Homo sapiens: one gene and its partner. The protein of the gene in region 2 interacts with the protein of the main gene of each other region in a pairwise test. Each region holds a gene or a part of one and is shown on either strand. Other genes may lie near its edges. The genes, in order: RASAL3 and WASF3.

Region 1 (10,978 bases), on a different chromosome or scaffold from region 2:
TTGGCGGCGGCGGGCAGGACGCCGGACCGGGACACTCTGCGTGCGCTGCACCGGCCGGGGCCGCCGCAGGGGCCGCTCTTCGTCCGGCCGTGGCCGGGCCCAACTCTCTGAGCGGCGAACGCTGCGCAGAGACTGGCTCTTGGAGATGAGAGGGGTGTGCTTGGGGAGGTCCCGGGGGGCCAGGAAGCCGGGCTTCTCCCCTGCGGAGAGGCTAGGGGTGGGATGGAGGATCTTAGACCCTCCACTGGCCCCTGAGACGACCCCATCCCGACCTGACCAGAAGTGACCTCACCCCCCACGTGAACTTGTCCTTTCTTTTTTTTTTTTGAGACAAGGTCTTGCTCTGTCGCCCAGGCTGGAGTGCAGTGGCTAGATCATAGCTCACTGCAGCCTTGAATTCTGGAGCTCAAGCTATTCCCCAGCCTCAGCCTCCCAAATATCTAGGACTACCAGCACATGCCACTATACCCAGGTAATTTTTTTTTTTTTTGGTAGAGATGGGGTCTCCCTATGTTGCCCAGGCTTGTCTTAAGTTCCTGGCCTCAAGTGATCCTCCTGCCTCAGCCTCCCAAAGTGCTGGGATTACAGGCATGAGCCACTGAGCCTGGCTCCTGTCCTTGACTTCTGACTATAATACTGTCCTCTCTATGACCCTTGACATCTCTCCACCCTAACCTCTCCTCTCATCCCCGACCTCAAACACACTGTGACCTTTGACCCAACCCTTTCTATAACCTGTGATTCCCGTCTGACCCTGGGCTTGACCTCTGCTCACAATGATCCAACTTCACCTCTGACCCCTGTCTGAGCCCTGCTCCTTCCTGTTCCCACCCATCAGACCCCAGACCAGACTTGAGGTTACCTGGAGTGGACCTGGGCCGGGGGCAGTGGGAGACGCATTGGCACTGACACAAGCACAGGCTGGCCCTCCTCAATGGCTCGCAGGATGGTGGGCAGTGGTTCCAGGGTGTCTCGGGTTGTCTGGTGAGGCATGCAGGACAGAGACTGAGCAAAGTCTCCAGGGTCAGAGTCTCCCAAGCCTTCTTGCCTCCCTACTCTGGGTTCAGGCCATACCTGGTCAAGCTCAGCAAAAATTGTACAGAGCTGGGCATGCAGGACAGCTAACTGGAGGGCCAGATCACCACTGCCCTGGTAACCACTGGGGGCAGCATCCACATCCACCATGGCTACCTGGTCCAGGAAGCATTGCATGGCTGGTCCATGTTCCTCCAGGAAGCTATTCATGAAGCCCATGTAGGCCTCCTTCTCACCGAACCTGGATCAGGGCCAGGCTGGGTGGGTCAGGTCAGGCACCTGCCACCCCCACACTCCCAGCATGGTCCCCCCACCCCTAGCTTCCCAGCACCTACGGGGCACGGTTGGCGAGGTTCTGGATGACCTTGGCAATCAGTGTGAGGGTGCGGGCTGGGCCGGGTGCTGGATGGTCTGGTGCCAAACCAAAGAGGCTGGGTGCCAGGATGGCAGGGCACAGGAGCCGCAGGAAGAGGGAGGCGCACACCAGTCGGGGGCCCAGCACCTCAGAGCCACGTTCTTTACATGCTTCTCGCCAGCTTGAGAACACGATGCCCAGCTCCGCAGGGAACCAGCTGGTGCAGAAGAGGCAATGAATGGTCAGACGGGGAGGCTATGGGCATAAAGGTTAAAGTCATAAGGTTGGGAGTCCCAGAAGCACTGCATGATTGGTCCATGATCCTCCAGAGAGCTATTCATGAAGCCCATGCAGGCTTCCTTCTCACTGAACCTGGGGTCTGGGCTCTAGGATTGGGAATATCTGAGATAACAATGCTTGGGGTTATGAATCAGCATGGGGCCATGGCTTATGGTGTAGCTATGGCAATCGCTGGGGATAATACTCTTATAGTTGGGGATACAGGGTCACATGAAGACAGAGGTTATGAGCTTGGATGTACTTATAATTAGACATGAGACTGGTGGGCCAGAGTACAAGATATAAAGTAGGATTGGGGCTCTGGAGGTCACCTAGGGTCAGAAGTCACTTGATTGAAGTCAGGGATTAGGTATGCAGGTTAACCTAGGGTCAGAGGTCAAGGGATTGGAATCCCAGGTCTCCTGTGATCAGTTGCATGGGATTTGAGGTGGAGGGTCACTTAAAGCCAGGGATCATGGACTTGGGGCATCATCTGGTCATAGGATTGAGGTCCTATGTTAACTGGAGCCAGTGGCATGAAATTGGGGATATGGAATCAACTGTGGTTACAGGACAAGGAATTGGGTCTCAGGTTACTTGGGGTCAGTGGTGATAGGGTTGCATGGTGATAGGGTTGCCAGATGCAGCAAACGAAACTTCAGGACATCCAGTTAAACATGAATTTCAGATAACGGAGTGATTTTTATTTATATTTTTACTTTTATTTGGGACAGGGTCTCTGTCAACCAGGCTGGGGTGCTGTGGCATGATCATAGCTCACTGCAGCCTTGAATCCTGCGCTCAAGCGATCCTCCAGCCTCGGCTGGGAATACAGGTGTGTGCCACCATGCCTAGCTCATTTTTAAAAAGCTTTTTGGAGAGATGGAGTCTTGCTATGTTGCCCAGACTGGCCTTGAACTCCTGGGCTCAAGCAATCCTCTTGTCTCGGCCTCCTAAAGCATTGGGATTACGGGCGTGAGTCACCATGCCTGGTTCAAATGAGTAATTTTTTAGTATAAGCATGGTCCCAATTATTGCATCAAATTTAACTGAGTGTCTCCTGTATTTTATCTGGCCACCCTAAACTGGAGGTCGGGGCTAGCATGGTAAGCAGGGGTGGGCTAAGCTGCTGGGGCCCTGATTCTCACTCGTAGGAATGGATAATGGTTTCGAAGACCTCCTCGCAGCTGTTCCGAAGTCTGGCCTGGTGCTCTGGCAGCTCCGAGGCTGGACATTTGCTGGGGTCCACTTCACAGTCCTCAGTAGAAGCACAGAGACGCCGCACAACCTGTCCTGCAGCCCAGCACAGCCAGATAGGGGCTGGGGCCATGACCACCAAAACCTGCCACACCCATCCTCCAACCTTGTCTTCAGGTTATTCCGGAGGCACCCAACATCTTGGGGAGCTCCCAATTGTCCCCAGGATCCTAGCACCCCCAAAACACCACTCACTACCAGAATCCAGGTTGCTCAAGGACTCTTAGAACTTCACCCAGGTCCCCTAGCTCACCAGCAGGCCGCTGACATGGACTCTCCCCCAGCTCACCCAGGGTCTCCTGGAGGTAATCCTGTGCCACGAGCTTCATGTACTCATCGATAGCCTTGGTGGCCAATGTGTTTTCCCGGAACAGCAGCGCCTCACGGCCTCCACAGCGCGCCAGCTCCGCAGTGCCCAGGTCAGTCACCAGCGCCTAGGAAGGGCAGGAGGTCAGGTTGCACCAGATGCAGACAGAGTCCAAGGGAATTCGGATCCTTGGCTGGTCCCTCACACCAGAGGCACAGGCCCCGCCCCTTGTAGCTGATGCTTAGGCCCAGTCCTTACTGCTGGGGCTCATAACCGAGGCCGGAACCTCTAACCCTCACAGCAGAAATTTAAGCCTTTCAGCGCTGAGGTGCAACCTGGGCCCCGCCCCTCACGCGTGATGCTCAGGCCCCTGTCGCAGCTGAAGCTTAGGCTCCGCTCTTCAAGGTGTCCCGCCCCTTATGGGTGATAATTAGGCCCCGCCCCTCACAGCTGAAGCTCAGGCCCAGTCCTTCAAGGTGCCCCGCCCCTTACAGGTGCAGCTCAGCCCCAGCCCCTCACAGCTGACGCTCAGGTCCCGCCCTTCAAGGTGCCCCGCCCCTTACGGGTGATGTTCAGGCCCCGCCCTTCTAGGTGCCCCGCCCTTCTAGGTGCCCCGCCGCTTACAGGTGACACTTGGACCACGCCCCTCACACCCCTTCAAGGTGTCTCCCCCATTACAGGTGCAACTCAGGTCCTGCGCCCCAACTCCTGCCCGAAGCGCGTTATCGGTCTACCCCTGGTAGCCCCGGTCCGCGCTGTCGCGGTGCCGCACCTGCGCCCGGCCGGTGGCCCGCAGCACGCGCACCATGGCTGCCGCCAGCTCCTCCTTGGCCTGCGCAGGCAGCGCGGGCTCCAGGGCCCCGCAGAGGCGCGCATAGTGGAAGGTGAGGAACTCCGCCAGCTCCTTGTAGCGCTCGGACGGCAGCACGCGCAGGCGACGCGCCCGAATCCGCGCCCGCAGCGCTGCGCCCGCCGGCGCCCCGAGCAGCGGGAACCAGCGCTCCAGACCGGCGGCAGGCGCGCGTGGGGCGTCCAGCTCCTCCAGCGCCAGGGCCACGCGGCCCAGCACCGCGCTTCCCGGGCCCAAGCCGCGCAGCCGCAGCGACAGGCGACGTGCCGGTGGCAGCGCCTCGAAGTGGAAGCGCTCGGCCCAGAAGAGCTGGCCTGGGCCGGCCCGAGGCGCCGTGCGTGCCAGCAGCGCGCCATCCAGCCACAGCTCGGCGCGCACGCCGGGTGCCCCCGCCGCTGCTCGGGGAAGCCCCTTCGCTTCGTGCACCCACACGCTCAGCCATGTCTCTTCCCGCTCCACGTTGTCCTGCAGATGGGAGTGGGATGGGGGGAAGCGTTTTGGTTTGTTGGCACCCCAAAGAAGGCACCGCAAGTGAAGCGTGGAGCCTCAAACCTGTTGCGTCGGGTCCCTAGGGAGATTGCTGGGCCTTTGGGGAAAGAAGTGGAGCCACGGGAGTCCGGAGGCGGTTACGCGGAAGTCTTCTAGCTTTTCTGGGCTCTCCGGGAGAGTTGGGGGCTCCAGGGCATACAAGAGTAGTACTGGAGTAAAGACTTCGCGATTGCCTGGCAGGCAGGGCTTTGGGTGCATATGGGGCCGGGAGTGGACAGAAGGGGCGGGTCTGATATTCCCGGGGCTGGTAATAGATGGAAGGGGAGTCTTGGAGCCGTTGCAACGATGCAGGCGGGGCAGGTGTGTTGGGGGCGCGGGTTATGGAGCGAGCTGGCTTTGGGTAGAGTGGAAGGGGCGGGCCAGGCCTGTGGGCGGGGTCTCCGTGTCCCGCTTTTCTGAGGGCAATGACCTGGGTGGGCTGGAATTGGCGACGAAGGTCCTCGATCCAGCGGTCTCTCTCAGCGGCCGAGCGACAAGAGAAGCAGCGGCTTCCACCCGTCCAGGTTACCTGTTGGGATGGAGAATCCAACGGTGTGATCGAGGCCAAGGGTGAAGCCAAAGGGTGGGAGGTGGGACTGAGGTGGAATCGAGGTGGACTGTCTACACTTACCTGAAAGCAGTGGGGCTCCCCCAGGAGGCTGGGGTGCAGTGGCCAGATCCGCACATCCCGCTCGGCACCCAGGTCCAGTTCAGAGAGTGTGGCCAGCGACTCCCTAGAGCCCAGAGCACTGGGGGGTCTGGGAAGGGGGTGGGTGAGCACACCGTCATTCCTGCCTCTTCCCCATCCCCCATAGCCTGAAGGGTAGAGGAAGGCCAGGAAGGACTTCAACCCAATTCGGATCCCGTTTCTCCCCCGTGCCCCCCCCACCCCCCGCCATGGCACCTCCTTGCTTTTAGGATAAACTCAACTCCTGGTGACCTACATGACCAAGCTGGGTCCAGATGTTGTCACCTCATCTCCCTCCACCTAATCCATCACTTTCTGAGCTCCAGCCTCCCTGGCCTTGTTTTATTTTATCCTATTTATTTATTTATTTATTTATTTGAGACAGAGTCTTGTTTAGTGCGGTGGCTGGATCTCAGCTCACTGCAACCTCTGCCTTCCAGGTTCAAGTGATTTTCCTTCCTCAGCCTCCCAAGTAGCTGGGATCACAGGTGCCCACCACCATGCCTGGCTAATTTTCTAATTTTTATATTTTTAGTAGAGGTGGGGTTTCACCATGTTGGCCAGGCTGGTCTTGAACTCCTGATCCCAAGTGATCCACCCGCCTCAGCCTCACCAAAGTGTGGGATTACAGGTGTGAGCCACCGTGCCCAGCCCTATTTATTTATTTATTTATTTATTGAGATGGAGTCTTGCCCTTTTGCCCAGGCAGGAGTGCAGTGGCACAATCTTGGCTCACTGCAATGTCCACCTCCCAGGTTTAAGCGATTCTTCTGCCTCAGCCTCCTGAGTAACTGGGATTACAGGCATTCGCCACCATGCCTGGCTAATTTTGTATTTTAAGTAGAGATGGGATTTCACCACGTTGGCCAGGCTGGTCTTGAACTCCTGACCTCAAATGTTCCACCTGCCTCTGCCTCCCAAACTGTGGGATTACAGGTGTGAGCCACCGCACCCAGCCCTATTTATTTTTGAGACACAATCTTGCTCTGTTGCCCAGGCTGGAGTGCAGTGGCATGATCTCTGTGCACTGCAGCCTCAACTTCCCAGGCTCAAGCAATCCTCCCACTCAGCCTCCCCAGTAGGTGGGACTACAGGTGCCCGCCACCATGCCTAGCTAATTTTTGTATTTTTTGTAGAAATGGGGTCTCACTATGTTGCCCAGGCTGGTCTCGAACTCCTAGACTCAAGCAGTCTGCCCACTTTGGCCTCCCAAAGTGCTGGGAGCCACTTCACCCAGCCCTCTTGGCCTTGTTTTAGTTGCTTCTTTCGGCCTCTTGGCCTTTGCACTTGTTGTTCCTTCTGCCTGGAATGCTTTTTCCACCCCCCTGTTGGCCTAGTTAACTTCCATCCACCCTTCAGATCTCAGCTCAAGGGTACCTTCCCTAACCCTCCCAGACCAGTTGATTGACTTAGCTCCCATTTTAGAGTTATTGTGTCAGACTTTGCCCCCACCCTGGCTCTGTGCTAGATCATTCAATGTCCCCAGCATCAACTGATGTGGGGCAGAACACAGAGGCCACAGGGGGTGTTTGGTGTAGATTGGAATGATATGCAGGAGGTGGAGGAGGAGGGGCCAGTGTTGAACCCCAGCCCCTCCAGCCTCTCATACACCCTTACCCATCCCGGGGCTCCAACCTGGCCTTTTTCTTCTCTTTCAGCCTCTTGAGCAACCCCTGTGGGGAAGGGAATGTCAGCTGGACAGAAATCTGTGCTCCTTCCTCAGCTCCTTCCCTCCCAAGACATCCCAGAGGATCTACTGGTCTTGGAGGACCAACACCAAGCTCAGGCTGTATTAGCAGGAATAATAAGAGCAATCAGCAGCTCCTAATTCTTTGTTCATTTGTTTTTTTAAGACAGGGTCTCGTGCTGTCGCCCAGGCTGGAGTACAGTGGTGCGATCATGGCTCACTGCAGCCTCAAATTTCTGGGCTCAAGTGATCCTCTTGCCTCAGCTGGGACTACAGGTGAATGTTACCATGTAGAATTGGGGACTTGCTATGTTGCCCAGGCTGGTCTTGAACTCCTGGTCTCAAGCAATCCTTCTGCTTCAGCCTCCCAAAATGTTGGGATTACAGGTGTGAACCACTGTGCCTGGCCCAAACTCCCATTTGTAAAGCATCAATCATATATTCTCCTATACTATTCATTTATTTATTTAAGAGATGAAGTCTCCCCATGTTGCTTAGGCTGGTGTTGAACTCCTGGCCTCAAGCAGTGCTCTCTGCTCAGCCTCCCGAGTAGCTTGGACTATAGCTGCGCACTGCCCTGCCTGGCTCCTGCACTCTCTATTGGCTTCCCATAAACAACCCCTAGAGAAAGGTTATTTCATTAGCTTCATTTGACAGACTGGGACTCTGAGGCCCAAAGAGGGTCAGCAACCTGCTCCAGATCACCCAGCAAGAGTGCCCTTTCAGCTTTGAGGGTCCGAGAGTCTTGGCTCTCCCCTCTACCTCCCACCTTCACTGGCTGCCTTACCCGAACGTTGTGGACCTGGTTGGGACCAGCAGTCTCCGGTTCTGTTTTTCCAGGCATCCGATCTGTGGGTCGTTATGGGTGGCAGGTTGGGGGGTTGGATTCTGCCCCACTTTTAGAGCCTCCCAAATGCCCCAGGCCTTTCCACCCCTCAAGCTTACCTGGATCCCTGAAGTTCCCCATGGCCACGTGGATGCTGCCCTCGGAGCTAGCACTTCCCACCCGGGGCCTTCGAGGACCCTGTTCTCCCGCAGGAGTGGGTAGTCAGAGAGGGGAGGCAGGCAGGCAGGCAGGCAGGCAGACCGAGGGAGAGGCAGACACCTTCCCATTATCCTCCCTCCAGCCCCTGCCTCTGTTCTGCCCTCCTCCTTTTTCTTTCTTCCCTCCTCCCCTTTCCCAGGTGCCCCCTCTCACCTCCTCCTCTCCTCCAAGCAGCACCAGCTTCCCATCAAGCAGGGTGAAGCCCCCAATGTCCCAGACAGGCACGTTGGGTGTGGGGGCCTCAGGGATCTGTGGGGTAGGGGGCTCCAGCTCTGGCTCCGGCTCCAGCTCTGGGAAGAAGAGGAGGCACTGGGGGACTTAAGAGACGTTTTCTCTCCCTCAGGCTACCCTTTCCATTCCCGAAGGCTCATGGTGGGTTCCCTCCTAGGTGCCCCCCACCCCAGCAGCCGTATCAGACTGTATGACCTTGGGCAAGCTTTCATCGCTGTCTGGGCCTTGTCCCCACTAACCATGGGTAGCAGACACAACTCACCTACCATGTGCCCAGTACCCTGTATACCACTCCACACACCTTCTTGCATTGAATCCTCCAAAAGCCATTCAAAGGGCTATGATAACAGGCTCAGAGAGGTTGAGTGACTTGCTCAGGGTCACACAGTTTGTGAGTGGTTGGGCTGGGCTTCAGTCACAAGCATTCTTCTCTCTCTCTCTTTTTTTGTTTTTTTGTTTTTTTTGCATTCTTCTCTTAACCAAGACATTATGTGGGTCCAAGAGGTTAAAAAACAGGACAGGGGCTGGGCAAGGTGGCTCATGCCTGTAATCCCAACATTTGGGAGGCCGAGGTGGGGCAGATTGCTTGAGACCAGGAGTTTGAGACCAGCCTGGGCAACATAACAAGACCCTGTCTTTAAAAAATAGCCTGATGTGCCTGGGCTCTGTGGCTCACACCTGTAATCCTAGCACTTTGGGAGGCCTAGGCGGGTGGATCATCTGAGGCTGGGAGTTCAAAACCAGCCTGACCAACATGGAGAAACCCCGTCTCTACTAAAAATACAAAATTAGCCAGGCGTGGTGGCACATGCCTGTAATCCCAGTTACTCAGGAGGCTGAGGCAGGAGAATCTCTTGAACTTGGGAGGCAGAGGTTGCAGTGAGCTGAGATTCCGCCACTGCACTCCAGCCTGGGCAAGGAAGTGAGACTGTGTCTCAAAACAAAAACAAAAACAAAAACAAAATGGGAATATAAGCAGTGAGAATTAAATGAGCTTCCAGGAAATAGGAGGGCTGAATTAGCCCTCCCAGATTGCCTGTCTGTTCCCTTGTTTTTACCACCAGGAGCAATAAATGATAACTCCCGCTTATTAACGGATCACTTAAAATATGTTGGGCCTGGGGCCGGGCGCGGTGGCTCACGCCTGTAATCCCAGCACTTTGGGAGGCTGAGGCGGGCGGATCATGAGGTCAGGAGATCGAGACCATTCTGGTTAACACAGTGAAACCCTGTCTCTACTAGAAATACAACAATTAGCTGGGCATGGTGGCGGGTTCCTGTAGTCCCAGCTGCTCAGGAGGCTGAGGCAGGAGAATGGCGTGAACCCAGGAGGCGGAGCTTGCGGTGAGCCGAGATCGCGCCACTGCACTCCAGCCTGGGCAACAGAGCGAGACTCCATCTCAAAAAAAAAATAAAAAAAATGCTGGGCCCTAGGCTAGTGTTACATTCCTGAGCCCTAATTCTTGTGATATCCATTACTCTTCTAGATCCCCCTGTGTGACACTTAGCACCATCTGTCATTTTTTTTCTTTCTTTTTTTTTTTTTTCTTCCATTGAGATGGAGTCTCCCTCTGTCGCCCAGGCGGGAGTGCAGTAGTGCAATCTCAGCTCACTGCAACCTCCACCTCCCGGGTTCAAGCGATTATCCTGCCTCAGCCTCCTGAGTAGCTGGGAGTACAGGTATGTGCCACCATGCCTAGATACTTTTTTTTTTTTGTATTTTTAGTAGAAACAGGGTTTTGCCATGTTGGCCAGGCTGGTCTCGAACTCCTGAGCTCAGGTGATCCACCCACCTTGGCCTCCCAAAGTGCTGGGATTACAGGTGTGAGCCATCATGCCTGGCCCATCTGTCATTTTCTTGTTGATGGATTTCCTGTCAATTCCACTACACTGTGAGCTCCATGGGGCAGGGAGGGTCATCTGTCTCTTTCACTAGTGTGTCCTCAGTGCCTAAATCAGGGCCTGGCACATACAATAGAAGCTCAACAAACCTCTGCTTGAATAAATGAATGAATATGAGCAAATAAAATTATATACTCTCCAAAATGGAGATCATTATTCTCACTGAACTGATGGAGAGGCTGAGGCTTAAGGGCTCAGAACAAAGACACGGAAGCTAGAAGGTAGGAGAGTAGGAGGCAGGCTGAAGATGGATATCCAGGTAGGAAAGGATGGGCCTGAGCCATTGAAGGAGAGACCCGTTGGGGCCAAGAGCCGTTTAGCCTCTGGACAATACTATCACGGGTTTACATTCACTGTTCCTTCCTCAGATGGACCCTCTGCCCACAGGACCCCGGCAACTCCTCCTACCCTCTTTAGGGGGAAAGAGGGAACAGGGTAGCTGGGCCCCAGCGGCTTCCTGCTGGGCTTTTGCACTCCCCACAACTTCCTGTGTCTGTATGGTTGATGCTCCGGAGGCAGACAAAACCCAAGCATCCGGCTTCCCAGCCCGGCCCAAGCTCAGGGTGGGGGAACCATGTACCTGGGGCCTCCTGCTCCGGCTCCGGGTCTGGCTCCGGCGGTGGGTTCTTATGCCTCCCCCAGAGGGCCTTGGAGAGTCGAAGGCGACTGGTCCGTGACTCCTTGGGAGGCGCAGATAGGACCCGACGGAATATCGAGCGAGGGGCTGGCTGGGTGCTGACCATGGGCTCCTGGTGGCTCAGGGCCCTGCCCCAGCCAGCAAAGCGGCCCCAGCGGAACCCTCCAGCCGCCTTCT
Region 2 (11,027 bases):
GTGGCAATAAAGCCATGTGAAGGAGTGCAAGGAGAGTACAGAGGCTGGTGTAGGTAACTGTGCCCAGGAAGGCTCCAGAGAGGTGAATTTGAGCTGCGTTGTGAAAGTTGAGCTTCCCAGGTGAGGAAGGGCAGGAGGGGTATTCAGACAGAAAGCCCAGGGCATGTAGGGCGAATGCTAGTGGTGCAGGATGCTTCAGGAAATCTGGTAGCTGGATTATTTTTAAGGGCTTTATTTGACTTATCCTGTAGACAGTGGGAGACTCTGACGGTTTTTGAGCAGCATAGAGATGCTATCAGATCTACATTTTAAAAATTGCTCATAAAATAGCGTGAAGACACAGTGAAGGAAAAACCAAGGGAAATGTGTTAGAAATATTGTCACAGCACAAAAAGGGATGGTGGTGAACTCAGCTTGGGTTGTGGGAATGGGAAAGGAGAGGCAGGGATAGATTTGAGGGAAGTATTGGCCATGTGCTTCTCAGAATATTGTGCACACATTACTCTGCTGTTTCACTTAGCAAGAATAGCAACTTCTAGGGCTCTCCATGTTCATTGGAAAAACAGCTTGTCTGTGAAAATATCAGTGAGTCTTGGCTGGGTTACCTTGGGGGAAAAAGACAATTTCTCTGGGCCTTATCTATAAAATGGGCAACAGACCACATATCCAATAGATGTTATGAAGGTTAAATACAACAAATACAGCATACTGCACATAGAGCATTCTCAACAAATGTTTGTTATTTTTACCTTCTCATAATTTTCCTCACCTCAAAATAAAGTTAATATCAATATACTGCCTTGCTCTGATGAGATAATTGGGTTAATATTAAAATTTAAGATATAGCCATGTTTCCAGCAAATATTTTATTCTTTGAGACGTAGATATGGATATGTATGTATTTATTTCACTCTATGTCAAGATGAAAATAAATACTATCCTTCAGAAGAAAGCTCGGGTAAGTGAAGTATGTTTATAAAGATTTATATATGGAGCTAAATTAATTCTTGAGAACTGAGGTATTTGTAGTCATTATTTTACTTCATTCTGAGAACAAGTACAAATGAGCATGTCAAAAATGACAGTTATTATGCTTTTAAAATTTGATTTCTTACATATTCTAATTATATTCTTTTAATTAGTAACCACTCTTTGTTCTTTCTCTTCCGCAAAGTGAGATTGAACTCAGTTCCTAATGCAAAGCAGTTTGTAATTTTTATGTAAGATGACATGTTATTAAGTAAAAAGAATGACAATTGTTTTTCCACTAAAGACTTAGTGATGACAAAAGAGAATTAAGCAAATCACTGAGGGAATACCTAATTTATTAAGTGTCTTGAGAAAGTCACTGTGTCATCACTATCAGATTCAAATTAAGAGGATGCCTAAGCTGCCTACATTTTGACTTTAGAAATATATCCAAGATTTTGACCAGGCAAAGAACAAAGATGGCACAATTCAAGAGGTTTTAAAAATAGTTGTGAAGCATATTCTTATTAGGAATATGCTTGAGAGCTGTTCAGTTATCGTAATGCTAGACAGCTGCATCTCACTGCCCTGTGGGCCCCGGACTGGCTTCACTACACGCTGCATGCACGGGATTTCACAGAACACTGACAGTCACTTGCATCACCAGTATTCTCTTGACCACAATACCTTGTCACCAGTTTCCCTGCTGCTAGATTTTATTTTACTGTACTTCAGTATAATACCAGCATCGTATACCAGGTTGGTCAAATATTTACAGAGAAAAAGTTGGGAGGGGGTAGTAACGGAGTCTGGAGGAGTTACAGGTATCGAGTCTCCACGGTTCCATTTTATAGGCTATGCACGGCTCTGCTTGTACACTAGAATGATCCAGACATTTTTATTTTGGAGATATATGCTGAAGTATTTAAGGTAGAGTATCTTGGTGTTTGCAATTTGTCTACAAGTGGTTCAGCTAAAAAATAATGGAGAGGCCGGGCACGGTGGCTCACGCCTGTAATCCTAGCACTTTGGGAGGCCGAGGCGGGCGGATCATGAGGTCAGGAGATCGAGACCATCCTGGCTAACACAGTGAAACGCCGTCTCTAATAAAAATACAAAAAATTAGCCAGTTGTGGTGGCGGGCGCCTGTAGTCCCAGCTACTTGGGAGGCTGAGGCAGGAGAATGGTGTGAACCCAGGAGGCGGAGCTTGCAGTGAGCCGAGATCACGCCACTGCACTCCAGCCTGGGCGACAGAGCGAGACTCCATCTCAAAAAAAAAAAAAAATTATGGAGAGACAGAGAGAGAGACTGATGGAGCAAATGTGGCCTTGTGTAATTGGATAAAGGTATATGGGTGTTCCTTCTACCATTCTTTCAATTTTTCTTTACATTGGAAAAATTTTAATATAAAAAGTCAGGAAAACCTCCCCAAAACTTTTTCTTTTCTTTTCTTTTCCTTTCCTTTCCTTCCCTTCCTTCCTTCTTTCTCTTTCTTTCCTTCCTTCCTTCCTTCCTTCCTTCCTTCCTTCCTTCCTTCCTTCCTTCCTTCCTTCTTTCTTTCTTTCTTTCTTTCTTTCTTTCTTTCTTTCTTTCTTTCTTTGACAGAGTCTTACTCTGTCACACAGGCTGGATTGCAATGGTGTGAGCACAGCTCACTGCAGCCTCCAACTCCTAGGCTGAAGCGACACTCCTGCCTTAGCCTCCTTCTGAGTGGCTGGGACTACAGGCATATGCCACCACTCTTGGCTAATTCTTTTAGTTTTTGCAAAGATGGGAATCTCACTATATTGCCCAGGCTGGTCTCAAATTCCTGACCTCAAGCAAGTCTCCTGCCTTGGCCTCCGAAAGTGCTGGGATTACAGGTGTGAGCCACTGCACATAGCCCAAAAACTTCTTAAAAGGTACAATGATAAAGAACTTTTAAAAAAGATTTACCAATAGTTGAAGGACAATAGAATTTGTGACTGCAATAAAGGTCCATAAATACAGCAAAGGTGACCTTGCTTAAAAAATTTTAAGAAACGAAACTTTCTTTTTATTCTGTTAACTATGGTTCCTACTGCCTTTTCCAGAATGAATATACTTAGAATCATACAGTCTGTAGCCTTCTCAGACTGACTTTTCTCATTTAGCTATATGCATTTAAGTTTCCTCCATGTCTTTGTATGGCTTGATAGCTCATTTCTTTTTATCATGAAATAACATTCAATTGTATGGATGTACTGCAATTTGTTTATTCATTCACCTTGTGAGGGACATCTTTGATTCTTCCAGGGTCTCGTGATTATGAATAAACATTCGGGTACAAGTTTTTGTGTGGGCATGTTTTCAGCACAATTGGGTAAATACCTAGGAGTGTGATGGCTGGACTGAATTGTGAGACTATGCTTAGCTTTGTGAGAAACTGCCAGACTGTCTTCCAAAGTGGTCGTACCATTTTGCATTCCCATCGGCAATGGATGGGCATTCCTGTTGTTTTGTATCCTTGCCAGTATTTGGTATCCTTAGGTTTTTTGTTGTTGTTGCCGTTAGCTTTTTTATTTTAGCCATCCTAGTAGGTATGTCATAGTATTTCATTTTTGTTTTAATTTGCAATTCCTTAATGACACATGATATTGAGCATGTTTATTTGCCATCTGTGTATTGTCAACTCCACTTTAGGGAGGTGTCTGTTTAGATCTTTTGCTCACTTGAAAATTGGATTGTTTTTTAATTGACACCTGAGTGGCCTTTTTAAAAAAGTGGGTCTTATGAATAAATAGAGTGAGGGCTCAATCATGAATTCATTTATTCAGCAACTACATCAGGTACTGCCACTCTCATACCCAAGGTCTGCATTCCTCTTTTCCATTACTAACAAAACTCTAATATTCCTCCAGCCAATGCCCCAACTTTAAATACTTAGCATTTCAGACTCCTTTGCAGCTAAAGGTGGTCATGTGACATGTGGCTGGCCAATAAAATGCAAGCAGAAGGTGCTGGGTAAAGCTTCCCAGGAAGATGCAGACCCAACTGGGCATGCACCTCTTTGATCTTTTGCCCTTTACCCATCCCCCTACCATTTTCCTCAATGTGATGCAATGCTTACAAGGGAAGCAGGCATCCTGTGAGGATGAAGACAGAGATCACATGACAAGGATAGCAGAGACAATGGCTAGAAAGAGCCTGAGACACAACGACACCATAGAAGAGATATTACAGAAGCCCTGTGGCTGTCTCCAGGTTTCTGGTTTTGTGATAAGAAGCACTCCTATTTAGTAGGCACTTTTAGTCAAGATTCTGTTACAGGTCACCAATTCACTCCCTGATGCAGCAACATTTTATTAAGGATGAGGCACTTATTAGCGGTGGGCTCTAATCCTCTAACAAGACTGCTCTAAGCAGTTTTTATTTAAAGGACTGGTTCACACAAGACCATATTTGAAATAATTTATTTGTACCATGAACCACAACACTAGGAATAGAATCATATTTACCACATGCTCAGCACTGTACTAGGCATTATAAAAGGAGGAAAGAGGACTGTAAAATAAGGGCCTTATCCTCATGGAACTGATGATCTAATTAGAGAGGTAAGACTGACCTATATGAAACAAACCTGAACACTTTGGGATGATGTGTTTAAGGGCTAACAGTGAGTGCAAACTAAGTGTAGCAGCGGTTTATAAGGCTGGGGTCACCGAAGAGGGAAGCAGCCAGGGAAATATGATTAGCAACCTTGAAAACACTCTGGGTATCTATACTTTCATATTTTTGAGTTCTAAATTAATGACCTAAACATAGACATGGAAGCCATTCCCCTGGGTAAGTGAAGATGAAATGAAGGAAAGTCATTTTAATTTGAATGCCAATTTAGCTTTCAATTCAGCAGACATTTGTCACTCTAGTATCAATATTTAAAATACTGGGTCACTGTAATTATTCACCAAAATCCTGTTTACCTTGTTAATTACCAGCAATTTTTTAAAATGATGGCACTTTATGGAAACTGAATATACGTCATCTTTAAAAAGAGCTTTTAAAATCCCTCCTTTGGAAGTAATGCAGGTTAATAGATTAGACATTTTATGAAGAGGGCTGCATGATTTTTCTACTGCATTTCTGGTGTTGCAAACTTTGGTGAAATTATTAACTGCTATTCATTTTTTCCAACTTTTAGTTGTCTCTAGCTAGATGTTGATCATTATTACACATCTGTAAAGAAAAGAGCAAACCAACTTGAATTAGTGTTTCTTGAACTATTCATTAGAATTTAAAATTTTTTCCTAAAAGTTTTTCAATTTAGTGATCCTATTGGTAAATAAAAAGAATAAAGGCATGCAAATTAAAATAAAGGTAACATTTCTATTAGATGTTTTTAAACCCCTTTCCTTTGTGACCTAGCTTTTCTATCTTGGCTTTTCTATCTTTTCTTCTCTTCCTTTCCTTTCCTCCTTTCTTTTTCTTAAGTTTGTTTATGCCTCAGTCATCTGGTCGCACGTGGCTATGTTCCACTGTGGCAGGGCTTAGCTGGCAGTTTCAGGGATATCTTAGTTTTAATAAGTATTGTGGATTTCCTCACATCTAGGGTGGAGAGAGATTGGTTATAGGGTGATAAAAACAGAAGAATCTGTGTTGAAGGAGATGGGAAGATTTTAAGAATGCTAACGAATTTGAGCAGGGCATAAAACCAACCCATGAACAGGGCTACAGTCCTCTCAGGGTTGCCTGAAGCCTCAGCCCTGGAGGACGTCTGACACCTTACAGGTAGAGGACCTCTGTGCAGGAGCCCTCAACACCCAGGGAGGATTAGGATATAAGCGCAAACTCAAAGGTACTGTAATGGGCACCTAGCAATCAGAGGTGATACAAGGGTCTCTTGGCCCGAAGTATCCCCACCTCTCCTCGCTGGAAAGGACGCTGCCTAAGCCTCATCCCGAGCTGGGGGCGGAGGACCAAGGGTGAGAGCCACCGCCTCCGCAATCCCCCGCCCCTCGGCACCGTCGCTCAGCGCGCTCGCCGGCTCCCTATTGGCCGAGGCACTCGCCAATCCTGGTGAAGCGGCCCCGTGAGTTGGCCCTGGTTGGTGGAGCCGGCACTGAGCCCCCCTCCTGCTCCGGCCGAGCCCCCCCGCCGGGAGGGGGCGTGGCCGCGGCCGTGGACGGGCCGGAGGCGGCGTCGCTCGCGCCGCTGCGTGCGGTGTGGTGCGAGGCGGGTGCGCCGGGCGGCCGCGGCGCGGCGGGACCATGGAGCTCAGAGCGCAGCCCCGGCGCCGGCGGCGGGACCGCGGACCGGTGAGTGAGGGCTGCGGTCGCCCCGGCTCTCCGCTGTAGGCTGCTGTGGCCCTCTCGGCTCCGGGCCGGGCGGCTGTCGGGGGAGGGGCGGCCCCACGGCGAACTGAAGTTGCTGCATCGCCGCGCGCTCCGGCCGGGCGGCGGGGCCCACTGCGGGCTGCGGCGCCGCCTCGCGCCTATCCCTGCAGCCCGGCCGCATTCTCCCGGCCGGCTCCCGCGCTGGCAGGGGCTTCTCGCCGTCACGGCGCGGCCAGGCGGCCCTTCTCTCCCGCGCCTCCGGGCCTCCGGCCCTTTGCCGTCCGGTGCGCGCTCCCTGGACTCGGGACAGCCACCCGCCCTCCCCGCCGTAAGTGGCGCCCGGGCCTCCGCTCGCGCCCCACGCACGACGCCCCGGGCCGCTCCGCGTCCGGGACCTTCGCATCCGTTCAGTGTCTGCGCGCCCTCGCTGGTTCTGGTCCAGCTCCGCGTGCCCCCCGGCCCCATTCGGCCCTCGCCGCCCTGGCCTGTGCCCTCTTGGTGCCCGCGTGCGTGTTGGTTGCGGGCGTCCTCTCCCTCGAGGCTGCGGTGCCGCGTGGCTCCCGGCCTCGGAGACCAGGCCGGACTCTTGGAGTGCAGGGGAGGAGGTGGGGCGGCCCGCGAGTGCGGGGGACCGCGCGCACGGAGCCGCGGCGCGCGGGGTATCATCCCCGGGGGTCTTTACCCGCGCGCCTGGGCTTTAGCGAGGGCAGAAGCTTCCTCTCAGTTTGTGGTGCTGACGTGCAATGGCGATTGCTTCTTGATTTGGCCCCTCTGCAAGGGAGAGTTCCCTGGTGGAGACGAGAGTTCTTAATTATTCAGAAACTATGTGATGGGCTTAGGGATCAATGGGAGCATCATAGGAATTCTTTCTCATTTTAAGGTTAATTTTTAAATTAGCGGTTTACTTCCAGCAACAGTCTCGAGTTTTCAAAAACTGAAAATTAAAAAGACTACTTTTCGCAGTTCTTCAAATTAAATGCATAGCAGAACATGGTATTTTAAGATTCAGAGTCTACTTTTTATAAGGGGGAGAGGATAGCTATTTGAAATATTTTGCATCTTAAAAATTAGGTTTATCTAAAGCTTAAAATGCGACTCTATCAAAACTAAGTTCAAAGTATTGTAATTGACTAATCTTTCTATTGTCTCTAGGGCAAATTCTATTGCTTCTTTTTATATGTGCTTTACCCAACTCTCCTTTTCTAGCAGTTAAACAATGCAGTGGTTCTTTAAAGCTAGTTCTTTTATCTGCTTGAGAGGTTAAACAAACGAAAGCTGGGTTTGACCTTTCCCAAAGGCATTCTCATTGTGTCCTCTCCAGCTCCCTTCTCCCAGGGTTCTAATGACTTCAGTGTAGTACTCATTTTTCTTCATCTTGAAAGATTTTCTTAGTTGGTATTCACAAAAGCTGTGTCTTTTCACATGTTTAAATATTGGAAAGTTTGGTCAACTATTATATTTACCTTCCAACCTGTGCTTATTCTAGAACTATGTACATATAGAAATTGTTCTTGCATTTCCAGTTGGCTGACATGAAGTTGCTTAATAGCATTTGTTTTTAAAAAATCTGTTTGCTTTAAAATTTACAACCTAATAGTCAATGATGTGCTTCACTATCTTCAACAATTACGAAAACAAAGGTGGAACACACTTTGCTAAGTGGTCATGCCAACATTGTAACCTCCTATCTCTTGTCAGTGTGTCTTTGTAGTCACACGTTACGGTTCCCATAGAAACCTATGTATGGCAGGTAACCTTTTGGTTATTGGGATGTTTTGATTAAAACAATTGCGTTATAATGCAAGTATTAAATGAATTGTCCCTACTCACGGGCTAGTACTAGTGATCGTCTTTGGAATTCCAAGGACTTTCTTTGAAGAGTACTCCCAGATTGTTTTTCACTTTGGGTGGCTCTCCATTGCTGTAGACCTTGAATCTCTTTTTCTTTTCTTTTCTTTCTTTCTTTCTTTCTTTTTTTTTTTTTTTTTTTTTTTTTTGAGACGGAGTCTTGCTCTTGTCTCCCAGACTGGAGTGCAGTGGTGTGATCTCGGCTCACTGCAACCTCCGCCTCCTGGGTTCAAGCGATTCTCCTGCCTCAGACTCCCGAGTAGCTGGGAGTACAGGCGCCCGCCACCATGCCCGGCTAATTTTTGTACTTTTAGTAGAGATGCAGTTTCACCATGTTGGACAGATTGGTCTCGAACTCCTGACCTCAGGTTGATCCGCCCACCTCGGCCTCCCAAAATGCTGGGATTACAGGCGTGAGCCACCGCTCCCGGCCGAATCTCTCAACTTCTCTTCTCAGTCCGTTTTAAGGGCCCTGTTTCTTTCAAGTCAGGCTTTTTTTGGCTTTGCTCTTGGGCATGTGGAACTAAATGCTTCTGACAGCCCCACACATTCTTCTTCAGGGCTGGTTCTTTACCTGTGGCTTGACTTTATGCTGGTAATACAGAAATATTTTATGCCAGTAATACATAAATGATGTACATTATAAAATAAACAATATCAACACAGAGATTTATAGAGGTAAAAAGTCTTAAGTTTTCTTTTTCCCGTCTTATTGTTGTCCTATTCCTATTTCTTTCTTCAGAGGTAACCATAATATAGGGTGTATCCTTCTGGATTTTTTCCATTTAATACTGTAGATGAAATATATAACCCTGTATGTTAAAAAAACCATTTCATGAATGCCTACTAGGTACCAGGTACTATTTTAATCACTAGGGTTGCAAAAATAAGAGACAGACGCTTTCAAGATGTTCATAGTCTACCAGGACAAGCAATTACAGTGCAGTGTGATAAGTACCATGATAGAGTCAGTAATCAGTGAGGGATGTAGGAGCCTCATGCATGACCTAATCCATTCATTCATTTGCTTTATTCATTCAGTACACTTCAGAGTTTTAATATGTGCCGGGGATACAGAGATAAACAAGACAGATACCTCTGTCAGCCCCCGATGAGCTTGCTGTGCAGTTCAGTCTCAAAGAGTTTTAACCGTTGGTTACAATGTATTGTTTGATATGGGATCTGAAAGGGGCCAGCAACAAGAGCTCAGAGGAGGACCATAAACCCAAGCTTAGGGACGTTCAGAGAGACAGGAAAGCCTCCCAGAGGAAGCACCATGAGAAGGAATTGGTCGAAGTCTGGGTTGAGGAGAGGGTGTACAGAGAGATGGTCAGGGAGGTGATGCACTGGAGCAACCACAAACACCAGGAGTTCAGTCCAGTGGGGGTGGTTGTGGGCAAGGGCAGGGAAGTGGCAAGAAGTGAGGGAGGAGAAGTAAGGAGGGACTGTGCCTTGTGGGGTCTTGTGATTACTGTTGTGTGGAGTTCGGAGACCTCTGTGGGCAACAGGAAATGGTTGAAGAATTGTAAGCAAAAGAGGGACACGGTCAAATTTGCCCTTTGGAGAATGGATTAGAAGAGGGAAGGCTTGAAGCAGGGAAATTTGAGGAGGTAGAATTGCTGGGATTTGGTCATTGGCCGTGTGTGTGTATGTGGTGGGGGGAGTTGGGGCAGGGAGGAGTTCAGGGCAGTGTCCAGCTCTGGCTGGGTGGTTGGGTGATGGCACTGTCCTTAGGTGGGGACAGAGCAGCATCCATTTTGGGGAAAAGATTATGGGTCACACTTGGCTGGGTTAAGTTTCAGGTGCTGAGGGGACAGTGTGTTCAGTTGGCTGCACTAGGGATCCAGATAATCAGGAGTTGTCTGGATTAGAGAGACGCATGTGAGAGTTATTAGCTGTCCCAGACTGTCTCAAACAGTTTGAGAGTTTCCCAAACTATCAGCTAAGGTGCTACAGCAAACAGGGAGACTGGGGGATGTTTCACATTGTTGAGGAAAACACATAGTTCCGTCTCTTCAAGCCTGTGGAAACTACTAGCTCAAGATAGTTAAAAATGTCTAGATTAGATTGCACTCCATTCCATTCGATGACCTCATGTTTGTAAAGAAGGATTTTTGGTGGTTGCTGTAGCACGTGAAAATCAGTGTAGAAAAGGAAATGAGGGAGGCCATTGTCCAGTCTGACTCCAAGGTTTGAGAGAAATTGTGCAGTGCTCAACAAGTGTACACATACTGTATTAGTAAATACTTGTGGTTATCTAAGAATGAAATAAAAATGCCATTTTTTCTCTCTATTAAAGTGTACTTTTTTCAAGTTGGTACCAAGTTGTTAGGACATTAAGTACTTACGTTTTTAACATTTTCTTTGCTCAATAAGCATTTGTTTTGGCCTGAGACTCCAAGGGTGCGGTGAACAGAGAAAGTTTTGGAACTCCTGCCTTTGCCTGTGCAGTATTTGTTAATGGAAGCTGTTGGAGTAGATGAGGTCATTTGAGGAGTGTGTATAGAGTAAGAAAAGGAGTGGTGTGGAGTGAGATCTGAGGCACTCTTGTGTTTGAAAGGGAAGCAGATAATAGGCTCCCACACTGGGACTAAGAAGGATGGGGGTCATGGTGTCCGAGGAAACCTCAGCAGGCAGGGCGTGCTCAGCTGCTGCGAGCTGTTAGTAATACAGGGGACACTAGAGGCAACAGTGACATGACAGGGATGGGAGGGGGAGGCCAGTTTGTATCAGGATTTAATAGTGAGTGAGAGTGAGGGAGTGGAGCCCAGCATGTGTAGACAGCAATGCTCAAGAAATTTGATGCTGGTGGTTAGGGGTGGTTATAGGGAGGGCAGATAAAGGGGGAACCCTTTGGTTTTTGTTTTTTAAATGGGGGGATTTGAGCATGTTTAAATGCTGGTAAAGAACCAGGAGAG

The links.
Region 1: the proteins of WASF3 (region 2) and RASAL3 interact in binary tests that used the Homo sapiens proteins (3 or more experiments, as listed by UniProt).

What each region holds. Positions count from the first base shown.
Region 1 is NC_000019.10:15,453,287-15,464,264, forward strand, and holds part of RASAL3 (RAS protein activator like-3), read right to left. Parts: coding exon 10,745-10,978; intron 8,322-10,744; coding exon 8,185-8,321; intron 8,011-8,184; coding exon 7,932-8,010; intron 7,836-7,931; coding exon 7,774-7,835; intron 6,973-7,773; coding exon 6,917-6,972; intron 5,370-6,916; coding exon 5,243-5,369; intron 5,141-5,242; coding exon 5,042-5,140; intron 4,549-5,041; coding exon 4,006-4,548; intron 3,361-4,005; coding exon 3,216-3,360; intron 2,963-3,215; coding exon 2,818-2,962; coding exon of another isoform or gene 2,814-2,817; exon of another isoform or gene 2,623-2,813; coding exon of another isoform or gene 2,563-2,622; exon of another isoform or gene 2,352-2,562; intron 1,646-2,351; coding exon of another isoform or gene 1,608-1,645; coding exon 1,371-1,607; intron 1,277-1,370; coding exon 1,075-1,276; intron 982-1,074; coding exon 863-981; intron 212-862; coding exon 1-211. UniProt on the Homo sapiens protein: Functions as a Ras GTPase-activating protein. Plays an important role in the expansion and functions of natural killer T (NKT) cells in the liver by negatively regulating RAS activity and the down-stream ERK signaling pathway.
Region 2 is NC_000013.11:26,551,577-26,562,603, forward strand, and holds the start of WASF3 (actin-binding protein WASF3), read left to right. Parts: upstream 1-6,106; 5' UTR 6,107-6,243; exon of another isoform or gene 6,244-6,589; intron 6,590-11,027. UniProt on the Homo sapiens protein: Downstream effector molecules involved in the transmission of signals from tyrosine kinase receptors and small GTPases to the actin cytoskeleton. Plays a role in the regulation of cell morphology and cytoskeletal organization.